Linked DNA regions of Homo sapiens: all the other regions are reported to be linked to region 1. Evidence: microRNA targets listed by miRTarBase, many of them from high-throughput screens and not tested one by one. Region 1 holds a microRNA gene; each other region holds the end of a gene's coding sequence.
Evidence for each region. The annotated mature microRNA hsa-miR-127-3p reads UCGGAUCCGUCUGAGCUUGGCU and lies in region 1 at 2,751-2,772, opposite strand. An mRNA with a match to its seed (bases 2 to 7 or 8) in the 3' UTR can be bound and repressed. Matches are read on the target gene's strand: a 7mer-m8 pairs with bases 2 to 8, a 7mer-A1 pairs with bases 2 to 7 and ends in A, and an 8mer does both.

Region 1 (4,167 bases):
GCGTGCAGATATGCTTGCACTGGTGAAATTGAGGCCAGATGTGTGAAGTTCCAGAAGCCTCACAAAGAGGGCAGTCCTGGGAGAGTGGAGATTGTAGGAAGAGAAGGAGATTATTTGAAGATCTCCTCAACAGCTCAGAGGTCGGGAGAACATAGCATTGGAAGGAGACCAAATCGAGAAAGAGAAATTGGCCAAAAGTCTGAGTTAGAATCAAGTAACAAATATGCAGTTATCCAGCACATAGTAGGTATGTTATAAAATTTATGGAAAAAAAAAAAAAAAACCCAGACCTGTACACACCCCCTGAAATTTCTATTTTGAACATGGGGAAGGAAATAAGAACTATTTTGGGCTGCTGACCCAACTGACGGGACAGTGGCCAAGTGCCCATTTTCTCCTCTTCCACTGCACTGGTGAAACAGTAGGCATCTTTGCTAGAGATTCCCGCTCCACAACCAAGGTGGCTGGGCTTGCTCCAGAGCCCTGAGCCTGCCAGGGGTGGCTTTGGATGGTGCTGAGATGTGACCTCTGTGATTCTCAGGTGACCAAAGCAGGAAAAGAGGATTGACCAGGTGCATGTGCCAGGGGGGAATGGAGCAGCCTGTGCACCCTGCCAGGTACCCGCCTGCCACGGTGGCTGCTCCCAGCCACAGAATTTATGGGCTGTGAATTTCTCACATCTATGGAGGAAAAGGACAGGACAGGCAGACTGAATAAGCCTGGGAGGCAGGTCAGGGGTTGACAGATCTTCCCTCCCTGGGGGCACCCCAAGTGACCAGCCAAAGAGGCTGGCTCGATACAAGAAGGCTTTCCCCCATTTCTCTCTGCTCTGATTAGTTGGGCATCTGATTTGTCCTTGAGACCCTGATACTGCCACTTCACAAGATCCTAAACTACTGCCTTTACTCCCCACACTCCCCTTCCACCACCAGGTTCTGATCTCCACGGTCCCAGCTACTGACTGGACGCCATCACAACCTTACCAATCTTCAGAATACACTCCTTTCCATCCGACGAAATGATAGAACCCTCTGAAGACTCATTTGAGACGATGATGGAGCATAAGAATCCATCATCAAAACAAATGGAGTCCTCCGAGGGCTCATCCAACACCACCGAGGCGACGTCGGGCAGTGGAGTGCGGGGAGAGGCAGGGCCAGCCAGCGGCCCAGCCCAGGAAAAGAAGGAGCCCCCCAGTGGCCCACTCCAGGAAATGGAAGAGCTGCCCACTGATCTACTCCAAGACATGGAGGAGCCATCCAGTGGCCCACGTAAGGAAATAGAGGATCCACCCAATGACCTACTCCAAGACCTGGAGGAGTCATGCAACGGTTCACACCAGGCAAGGGGGGATCCACTCAGTGGAGCATCTGATAGGATGAAAGAAGCATCAGTCAACCCATCGGGAGCCCGAGAAGAACAAGAGGCTCACACTGACCTGAAGGAATCGGGAAGGGAGGAGACTCCTCAAGAGCAAAACCAGACCGAGCACTCAACCGCAGAACTTATGGCCATGGTGAGGTCCATCATCTCGCTGTACTTCCGAATGCAAGACCTCAAAGAGCAACAGAGAGTAGCAGAAGAGATCTTGATCAAAGGGATCAATGCAGGCCAACTGCCCGCCCCAAAGCACTTCTCTGGCGATCGCAGAGAATTCCACGAGTTCATCGTACTCTGCCAACTGACCTTACAGAGCTACCCAAGAATGTTCTATAACGACCGTCTGAGAGTTGGCTATGTCATCAATCACCTGTCCGGCTTGGCATTAGAATGGGCCAAAGCTCTACTGCAGGAAAACAGCCCCCTGATCGGAGACTTCCCAGCCTTCCTGGAGGCCATGTCCGAAGTGTTTGAGTACCGCCAGGCACTGCGTGTGGCAGAAGAGGCCATGTTCACCATCAGGCAGGGCGGCCGCTCTGCCACTGAGTACATCGATGAGTTCCAGAGCCTGGTACCCATCTTGGGCTGGCCAGATGAAGTCCTGCAGGCCCACTTGTGCCAGGGGCTCAACGAGGAGATCAGGCACTATCTATTCCGGGTCCCTCAGCCGGATTCCCTAGACAGTCTGATTGTGCTCATCCTGCAAATAGAAGAGAAGCTGGCAGAGAGAAGAGCTATGCTCAGGCTGCCCCCCGAGGCCCGCCCCCGGAACCTGACCTGGATCGACTCACCTGCTCCAGAGAGGTGGATGGTCAGCAGCTGGTTGCCCAGCGAAGTCCATCCGGACATCAATCGCGCCCACCTCTTCCTGCTGCTCATGGTGAGAGTGAACCCCTACCACAGCGTCGCGGTCCAGGCCCTGGTGGATTCGGGAGCTGACGGCAACTTCATGGATGAGAAGTTCGCCCAAGAGCACTACGTCGAGCTCTACGAGAAGCCGTACCCACAGCCGGTCCAATCCGTGGACGGCTCGCTGATTGGCAACGAGCCTGTCTGGCTCTACACGGAGCCCCTGGTGTGTATCCACCAGAACCACCAGGAGTCCATCGAATTTGACATCGTACCTTCACCGAACTTCTCTGTGGTCCTAGGCATCCGCTGGCTCCGAGTCCACGCCCCCGAAGTCGACTGGATCAAAGGCCGCTGCACCTTCCACTCTCCCTACTGCCTGAAGAACTGCTTCCGCCCGCCCCCGCCATGCATTGCCCTAGAGAGGCACGGCATGAGCCTGCTACCCGGACTGCCACACCCATACTCAGACCTGGCCGACGTGTTTAACCCGAAGGAAGCAGATGATGAGACTTCCGACCAGCCAAGCTCAGACGGATCCGATGATCTTTCTGAATCAGAGCCCTCTGAGCTTCAGCAGGCTGGAGACAGTGATCACAGCGAGACCTTTTACGAGTGTCCCTCCACCGCGCCTTGGGAACCTGTGGGTGCCAGGATGCAAGAAAGAGCCAGGCTACAGGAGGAATACTGGGACCTGCAGGACATGCTGACCAACAGACAGGACTACATACAGATGATTCCGGAACTGTTTGACCAGTTACACGGAGCCGAGTGGTTCACAAAACTGGAGCTGCGTGGGACCATTGTGGAGGAAAGCGTGAACGGGCACCGCACCGAAGATGTGTGGAAAGCAGCGTTTGGTTTGGAGCTTGAAGAGATGAAGAGCTACCAGCCGTTTGCGCTCTCCCCAGACCCTATCATACCTCAGAACGTGATTCACTTCATCCTAAAGGACATGCTAGGGTTCTTTGTGCTTTCTTATGGCCAGGAAGTCCTGATCTACTCAATGAGTCAGGAGGAGCACCTCCACCACGTCCGCCAAGTCCTGGTCCGCTTCCGCCATCACAACGTCTACTGCTCCCTGGACAAGAGCCAGTTCCACCGCCAAACCGTGGAATTCCTGGGCTTCGTCGTCACCCCCAAAGGGGTGAAACTGAACAAGAACGTCATGACCATCATAACAGGGTACCCTACCCCTGGCTCCAAGCTATCTCTGCGAAACTTCATCGAATTCGTCTTCCCCTACCGCCACTTCGTGGAGCGCTTCAGCATCATCGCAGAGCCCCTGGTGCGGCAGCTGCTGAGCTCCTACCAGTTCTACTGGGGAGTCGAGGAGCAAGAGGCCTTCGAGTGCCTGAAGAGGGCTTTCCGCAAGGCGCCTCTCCTCCACCACCCCAAGCCCCAGAACCCATTCTACTTGGAAACCGGCGTCACCGGCACGGCCCTGCACGCCTCCCTGATCCAAATCGACGACCAAACCGGCAAGAGAGCCTGCTGCGCTTTCTACTCCCGCAACATCTCCCCTATCGAGGTTGAGTACTCTCAAGCGGAGATGAAGATTCTTCCAATACGGGCTGCCTTCATGGTGTGGTGCCGCTACCTGGAGAACACCGAGGAGCCCATCATGATCCTTCTCAACACAGAGGATCTAGCCTCTCTGAATAATGACAGGCTCACCGTACTTCTCCCCGGGCATTGGGTCTTCTTCTTCTCCCACTTCAACTTTGACGTCATGGAGCTGCCAGAACAAGACGGCGGCCGAGCTCTGCCACCTGTGAGAAACCTCCGGTGGAGGAGAGCCTTCCAGAGGAACACTGCCGCCAGGCAAACCCTGCTGCTGGCCTCAAGGGGATTCCCCAGGGATCCATCGACGGAATCCGGGGAAGAAGAGAATGAAGAACAGGATGAGCTCAATGAACAGATCCTACGGCAAGAGCT
Region 2 (4,140 bases), not on the chromosome of region 1:
AGGCTGACGTCCTGGTAGCAGGAGGATGGGCTTTCTCATAGGCAGAGCCCATTCCTCGTGATCATGAGGCCTGCGGACAGGTTCCCGTGTGGTGTGATATGACCCTCGAAGTCCTCAGACCTCTCGGTACCACATTAGGCCCTTGTCAGCTAGTCAGTCACACCCTAGTATCAGCTGGCTCAGGGACTAGAGTTTTTATTGAGAGGAGGGGGTCTTTTGAAGTCTTTTGAAGGTGTCCACCCCGGATATCCTGCCACTGAGCTGCAATGTCTCTGTGTGTCCAGGCCCTGGGGACCTAGAGGAAACATTGAAAGGTGTTGTGCTGGGTAGACTCACTCTGGCTTCAGGGTGTGAATTCTAAGTCTAAGTCTCCTCTCATCTGTGTTCCCAGGAGCAGGAGAAGGAGGCCCGGAGCAGGGCGGCCTACATCTCTGCACTCCCCACATCTCCGCACTGGGGGAGGGGCTTTGATGAAGACAAGGATGAGGATGAAGGCTCTCCAGGGGGCTGCAATCCTGCAGGTGGCAATGGTGGTGACTTCCACAGACTGGTCTTCTAATGTGAACCTGCTGCCAACCTGACCCCTTCCCTCCAGGAGCCAGGTAGGGCCTGAGGGAAGCTGTGGAGGCAGGCCCTACCAAGAGGAAGGATGGTACAGCTCATGGCACCTTAGTCCTCAGCCTGATGAAGGGTACACAGAGATTCTCTCAGATATGGAAGTAAGACCTAAGTCCCTTTCATTGGGGATCAGTCCCATTAAAACTTTACACCCAAGTGTCCTGGTTAACTTGAAGCAGCCGAGATGGGCACACACGGGTCTTTGCCTCCCCCTCCTTCCCTAGCAGGCTCCCCATGCGGGAAGATCTGATGATGTTCAGGAAACAGGCTAGACCTCAGCTCCAATGTTTTGACATCAAGTACTATTTTCCTTCCGACTGCTGTACGGTATAAAGCACAGCAGGATCCAAGCCTTGCACAAAGGGGTGGGGGGGGCAGTGTCTCCTCTGGCTGTCCTGTTTGTTTGTTTCTCATATGGGGGTGGGGGGTACCTGCACTGTCTGTACCTTTCTGAGAAGAACAGAGACCGAGACCTGCCCCCTTACCAAGCGCCACTGCATGGTTTTGGGGGGGGGGGCGGGGGGCTAGCTTCTCACAGCAGGAGGCCTTTGCCCCCACAGCCCCTCCACGCCTGCCTCAGGGCCTGAGAAGCCACCACTTGTATCCCCCTTGTGGTTAGAGTCCTGATTTTACTGCAAAGGTGTTCATGTTCCTTGTGAAGTGTGGGCTCTTAGGAAGCCTGTGGGCTCCTCTGAGCAGTTGGCCTTTGTAGCTGCAACAGCAGCCACCTGCAGGTTGGGTGAAGTGCCCTGACACTGCTGTAGCCCCCTTCTAACTTCTAACCGAAGACAAGACAGACACCCATGTTCATAAATAAATAAAAGTAAGCCTAAGCAAGAGATTGTTCTTCCTTGGACTCAGGGGCTGTGATGGCCACTGGGTTTTGCTCACGGGGTCTGGGGAGGCCAGGACTCAGCCTGCCCCCCAGTGACGTGTGAGATGCCACAGGGAGCCAAGAGCCCTCTACTGAATCTACTGAAGTGGGGTGTAAGTAAACGTGTGGACTGACTGACTTACTTACCTTACTGAGGGCTGGGTGATGCTGCCCGTGGAGAGGATGCACCTGGGAGGCAGCTCTCAAGCCTTTACCTACCTCCTTCCCCAGGGGCTGCCTGCTGTGATGGTGGTGTGGAGTTTGGGCCCAATGTCACAGACCCTCAAGATGTCACATCTAAGTGACCTGTGAAAGCAGCAGACAGACACGCCCAGAACCCATCTCTAGACGCCTAAGAAAGCTGGATGGGTAAATGCTAGTATGATTTCCACTTTACAACAGACGCTGAGGTAGAGAGCATTTGTTCTTATTCACAGCCAAGAAAAATACCCAATTATTTCCAAATAAAGCAAAAATTGGAACAGACTGGAGTGAGAACGGGTTCCACCACCAAGCCCCTCAAGACAAGATGGACACGGCAGCTGGTTCTGGGGTGCATTTCTAGTGGACTTTATTGTCCTGCTCCAACACCACAGTAGAAAGGGACCTGCAAGCTCCAAGCCTGTACCATGTGTCACCACAGCAAAAACATGACCCACTTGAACACACTCCTGTCCCACCCACCGGATAAATATGTTACAATTTAAAAAAAAGAATACAACAGAATAAATTAATAACTTAAGTGATTAGGCACCAACAGTGATTTGAAAATTAAATGTCAATTTTAAATGGTAACAAGACAAGAACTCAAGACTGGGCTTCCACTAGCCCATTTTCTCTTCCTGACAAACAGTGACAATTCTGCGTGAAATAATTCTAGATTTCAAGACACAAGTAGCCAACAAATACACAACACATGCCACCATAAATCACATGACAGCCTGGATCTCTTGGGGACCCCCTCGGCAGGTACCCCATTGTGGTCCCAGGTCCTAAACAGCAGGGCTAGTCCCAGAAAGACGACCCCCCACGGAAGGGCTTTAGCGCTCCTGAGACCAGTCTGGCTTCCCCTGCATTTTATGAAGGCCCAGATGGGGAAGGAAGAACTCTGGAAATGGGATAGGGGTGCTGGGCCGAGATGTCCCCATGGGAGAAGGGGCCAGAGGGAGGATGAGCTGAGCCCATGCTCCAGTAACTTCAGAATGGTTGTGCTTTTGTCACAGGAATGGGGCATACTTTGTTAACTTCTACATTGGAAACCACTAAAGTCAAGCTAGGAGGGGACTGGGGATAGGTACTGCCCACCCCAATCCCCCAGAAAGAAGTTACAGAGGAGGGAGTCTCCCCTTCAAGCAGCTGAGCACCAGCTGTGGATGGGACCTCAGCGCAGCTAATCCAACCTCCCATTCCACAGACAGGCAGATCAAGGACTTAAGGAGACACCATCTCCCTATTTCTCATCGTTCTCACTTGACTTAACCTTGCAGAAGTGGAGCTGGAAGTGGGTGAAGAAGGCTCCTTGGAGAGCCCCAGGCAGGGGGCCTGTGTGAAGCAGTGCTGAGTGGGAAGGTATCCCCTTTCCGTAGGCTCAGTCCTCTCCAGGCCCCCAGGAGAGGTGGACTTTGACCCATGGATAGGCCAAAGGACCAGTTTTTTCAACTGAGTTGACTCCTTTGTTGGAGGAGGTAGTGGGTGGAGGGTGGGGATATGCTAGATACGGCTGGTAGTTTGGGGCCTGTGAGCCAGAGCTTTGCTTTCAAAAGGTCAATTTCACCTCTCATCCTTCCATCTCTACCCCTACACTTGCACCCGAGGGATTTTGGTAGTTACCAGAATAGGGGGCTGGAAGGAAGCCTCCTGGTAGTTACCAGAATAGGGGGCTGGAAGGAAGCCTCCTGGGAGATTCGATTTGAACACCTCAGTCGCTCTCCGAAGATTCCAGCCAGGTCCACTCACATCATGGCACACTCAGAACATGCTCACATGTTTATGGGAGGCTGCAATAGTCTGGGCCCACTTGTGGCTGCTGCGGGTACAGGGAAGGCACCAGTTAAAAGCTCTGTCGTATGGGGCCCCTTGTAGGGGGCCTTTAAGGCACACATTCAGGGCTGGGCAGAGTGAACCAGCACCCTGCCAACTCTGCCCAGTGTAGCTACCACCACTGCTTCCATTCACTTATTGGAACACCAAGGCATGGCCCCTACACTTCTGAGTGGCTGGACCCATATGCTCAAAGGCCTTTTGTTCCCAAGACACAAGGCTTTCCAAGCCTCTCCTTCCTTCTTCCTCCACTGGACCCAAGCCCTGCCCTCCTCCTCTGTAAAAATCTGACTCATCCCCTTCTAAGGCCTACCTCAGGCACTCCCTTTTCCTAGAATCCACCTTCCCTGATCCCCCACTCCTGCCTCTGACACCAACCTCCCTAAGTACTTCCTCTGCCCTCCATCAGCATTTGAAGTCTCTGTCTGATGGCCATCACCACTGTCTCATGTCCTTGTCCTTTTTCTGATTGTGGCTATCTTAAGTTCAGGGAGAAGGTCTGATTGATTCTTGTGTCCTTAGTGCTTAACCCCAGAAACTGGAGACAGCAGCCATTAATAAATACTCCTTGAGTTGATCTAAACTAATGCTAGGAGGAGAGGTGCAGC
Region 3 (4,167 bases), not on the chromosome of region 1:
TTCACCACCATGCCCGGCTCATTTTTTTTTGTTGTATTTTTAGTAAAGATGGGGTTTTGCTGTGTTGGCCAGGCTGGTCTCAAACTCCTGACCTCAGGTGATCCACCCCCCTGCCTTGGCCTCGCAAAGTGCTGCAATTACAGGTGTGAGCCTCTGTGCCCGGCCCGATATAAACTATATCTTAATAATCACACAACACATTTATCACGTGTCCTTGCTAATTAGGGGTTACAGAAAACATGGTAAGTGGCATCCAAAAATAATCTAAAAAAGTCCTGCATTAATCATTAATTCCAGTGACTTTTCCAAATAATTATTACTTTTCCCCCTCACATTTGTGAATAGCTCACACATTGTTAGTGGGGGACCGGCATTTGGTTGGTCCTAAGAAGATACAGGCTGATGAAATTTCTAAAAAGTGAAATAACTCCCCATTTAGTAGTTTAGTACATCAGAGAGGTAAAATCTTGCAGCAGCGGTCCTGGGAGGGAGGGTGGAGGCCGGGATGAGGAGAGTGTCTTGCCTGCTTGGTAGCTGGTTCCCTTGACTTTCTTCTGAAATGAGTGTCTTTCTGTCTGCCTGTTGCCTCTCGTAGCCCGAGTTCTTTCAGGTCTGCCACACCAAGAAGGACTATGAAGAGTACGGGCCCAGCATCTGCCGCCACAACCCCGTCTTTGGAGTCATGTCCTAGTGTCTGCCTGAACGCGTCGTTCGATGGTGTCACGTTGGGGAACAAGTGTCCTTCAGAACCCAGAGAAGGCCGCCGTTCTGTAAATAGCGACGTCGGTGTTGCTGCCCAGCAGCGTGCTTGCATTGCCGGTGCATGAGGCGCGGCGCGGGCCCTTCAGTAAAAGCCATTTATCCGTGTGCCGACCGCTGTCTGCCAGCCTCCTCCTTCTCCCGCCCTCCTCACCCTCGCTCTCCCTCCTCCTCCTCCTCCGAGCTGCTAGCTGACAAATACAATTCTGAAGGAATCCAAATGTGACTTTGAAAATTGTTAGAGAAAACAACATTAGAAAATGGCGCAAAATCGTTAGGTCCCAGGAGAGAATGTGGGGGCGCAAACCCTTTTCCTCCCAGCCTATTTTTGTAAATAAAATGTTTAAACTTGAAATACAAATCGATGTTTATATTTCCTATCATTTTGTATTTTATGGTATTTGGTACAACTGGCTGATACTAAGCACGAATAGATATTGATGTTATGGAGTGCTGTAATCCAAAGTTTTTAATTGTGAGGCATGTTCTGATATGTTTATAGGCAAACAAATAAAACAGCAAACTTTTTTGCCACATGTTTGCTAGAAAATGATTATACTTTATTGGAGTGACATGAAGTTTGAACACTAAACAGTAATGTATGAGAATTACTACAGATACATGTATCTTTTAGTTTTTTTTGTTTGAACTTTCTGGAGCTGTTTTATAGAAGATGATGGTTTGTTGTCGGTGAGTGTTGGATGAAATACTTCCTTGCACCATTGTAATAAAAGCTGTTAGAATATTTGTAAATATCTTTCTGCTGTAGTGTGGTGGTCTGTTGGTTTTCTCCCTGTCGCTGTGCCTCCTTTAAAGAATATTGACATTGTTTTACATCATTGGAGAATTTGATTAATACTCAGCTTGTGGGAGGAAATGTCTTTTCGCGAATGGTGTGGGCTGCCTGCCCCGCAGTGACCACTCCATCGCTGGGGGTATCGTGGGTCTGGATAACCCGTCAGAGATGGTTTTTGAATCTGGGGTATAGTGGGAAGGAGTGCCTAATGATTTCTGATGTTCCTTCCTAGAAGTTCAGGATTCATGACTGTAAGCTTTCAGTAACTACTCTGATGTTTGCTGAATGGACTGCTAGCTTGAAAGGTAATTTGCTCAATTAATAGATTTAGGTTGATTTCACTCTTCATATTATTCTTATAATTATGTTACTTTAAAAATTGTTATTTATGGTATTTCTTCTAAGTTGTGAAGTATGTTTTTTTTTTGTTCTGTTTTAAAATTTTTTCCTTAGTTTCACTCTCAAAGGAGGTGAATGAAATATGTTTTGTTCTCAGAAAATTTGCCTTCATAAAGAAACGTAGCCAGGTGCAGTGGTGTGCGCCTGAAGTCCCAGCTCCTCAGAAGGCTGAGGCAGGAGGATCACTTGAGTCCAGGAGGTCAAGGCTGCAGTAAGCTAGGATTGAGCCACTGTATTGCAGCCTGGGTGACAGAGTGAGACTCCATGTCTTAAATAAAACAAAAACAAGAAAAAAAAAGTTATGTTATTATTTGAGTTTAGAAATAAGTTTAATATTGAACTCAGTATGGTGAAATCTGAGTTTACCAACCTCAGTTGACCGAATCTCTGATACTGTCACTGTGCTAGGCCCTCAGTCTCCCCAGTCAAGAGTCTGGTACCACCTGGTTCTCCCCTCATCCGTAGTGTTTCTCTGCATTCCCTTGGGGGATTTGCTGCTTCTCGGGATTGCTGTACCGTTGGCTTCTCATGATCTTCCAGCCATTTTATTGCATCAAGTTCCCGGTTGGTCTGCCTGCCTTCAGTCACACCTTTGCACCCTGAACGTGGCAGCGAGAGCCGTTCCTTCTAACGCCATTTTCCTCTTAGTTCTGTGCTATTCAGGGACCTACCTGATACTCCCATCTCCACCCTGCCCCGCCCGATTCAGCATGCTTTGCACATCTCACAGTGGGCACCGTCATTCCCACCTCTGCTCTGCATCTGTGCGTTGGCAGGTGCTTTGTTGCGCCTTCTCCAAACCCTGGGAATAACACCACTCTGTATGTCAGTGCTGTGGCAGCCTGGCTAAGCTAGAGCTGTATGAGCTGTCCTTCCACCACAGGATACCCAAAGCTTCCCTGTGCCTTCTTTGGTACAAGATTAGCTTTGAGATTGTACTTCTGTTTGTCAACTTAAAGAACTGTGGGAGAATATATATATATATATTTTTTTTTTAAATTTTTTTTTTAAGATGGAGTTTTGCTCTTGTCCCCCAGGCTGGAGTGCAATGGCGCAATCTTGGCTCACCACAACCTCTGCCTCCCGGGTTCAAGCGATTCTCCTGCCTCAGCCTCCTAAGTAGCTGGGATTACAGGCGTGCACCACCATGCCCGGCTAATTTTGTATTTTTAGTAGAGATGAAGTTTCTCCATGTTGGTCAGGCTGGTCTCAAACTCCCCACCTCGGGTGATCTGCCCGCCTTGGCCTACCAAAGTGCTGGGATTACAGGCGTGAGCCACCGTGCCAGGCCGAGAACATTTTGTTTTAAACCTACATTGACAGGACAGAATGATCCATTACAATGTGACAGGTATGATGCTGTGGTTCTCAACCCTGGGCAAGACCCATCCCAAATTAAGAGAATCAGAATAGGAGCCCCAGGGAAGGCATCCAATTTTTGCTTTTTGTTTTTAAACTCCTTAGGCAATGCCAGCGTAGCTGGATCTGAAAGGCTTATGAGCAGAAGGAAGGGTTTTTGACTCAAAAAGATCTGAATACCAATTCTGGCTGTTCCTCAAGCAAATGAGATCCTATTTTCTGTTTGCTCATCTGTGGGAGAATTGTAATGGTCCTTTTCCTGTTAATAGAGGTGAGTTATCATTTTTTGTTTATTCAGTGAGCCTGGCAGATACTATAGATAGAAATGAACTGTGATGGTCATGTGCACCCGTCATTTTATAAGGAAGAAAAATGTTTACAGTTAGTAAATTTGATAAAATCTGCACATACCTTTTGTTCAGGTTGAATGAGTTAGATCATAATATAGAAATGAGTTAAGTATTCCTAGAGTTGATGGGTAAAATCGACCTCCTATGACAAAACTACAACTCCAGGTGAGCAGTTTTCTGTAAAAAATATTTCATCAAATACACTCGTTAAATTCTAAAATTATAAGTCTACAGTCTTTAGGACTATTAAACCTTTTAATAGTGCAGGAGCCAGGTGTGGTGGTGAGTACCTGTAGTCTCAGCTACTGGGTAGGTGGAGGTGGTAGAATCCATTGAGCCCGGGAGCTCAAGGCTGCAGGAGCCAGGGTCATGCCACACACTCCAGCCTGGGCAACAGAGTGAGACCTTCTTAAAAAGTGCAGGAAGTTGCTTTGCCCTATTCAACAGATTTAGACATAAACTCAGCTTTACGATGGTGAGAATATGATACGAACGGCCTTAACT

Region 2: the mRNA of USP35 is a reported target of hsa-miR-127-3p. The part of its 3' UTR that is shown has no 7-base or 8-base seed match.
Region 3: the mRNA of ACTR3B is a reported target of hsa-miR-127-3p. The part of its 3' UTR that is shown has no 7-base or 8-base seed match.

Annotation. Positions count from the first base shown.
Region 1 is chr14:100,881,640-100,885,806 of GRCh38, reverse strand. It overlaps MIR127 (microRNA 127), which reads right to left and starts at 2,828; the gene lies at 2,732-2,828. RTL1 (retrotransposon Gag like 1) reads left to right here. Exons shown (of 4, transcript NM_001134888.3): 4 at 933-4,167. The coding sequence starts at 1,019. MIR433 (microRNA 433) reads right to left here and starts at 3,921; the gene lies at 3,829-3,921. MIR432 (microRNA 432) reads right to left here and starts at 1,324; the gene lies at 1,231-1,324. It also overlaps MIR136. RefSeq lists a silencer at 1-115.
Region 2 is chr11:78,213,255-78,217,394 of GRCh38, forward strand. USP35 (ubiquitin specific peptidase 35) reads left to right here. Exons shown (of 11, transcript NM_020798.4): 11 at 392-1,978. The coding sequence ends at 559. GAB2 (GRB2 associated binding protein 2) reads right to left here. Exons shown (of 10, transcript NM_080491.3): 10 at 2,039-4,140. Among named protein-coding and RNA genes, the nearest start is that of USP35, 26 kb to the left of the region's middle.
Region 3 is chr7:152,853,863-152,858,029 of GRCh38, forward strand. ACTR3B (actin related protein 3B) reads left to right here. Exons shown (of 12, transcript NM_020445.6): 12 at 596-1,516. The coding sequence ends at 691. Among named protein-coding and RNA genes, the nearest start is that of ACTR3B, 96 kb to the left of the region's middle.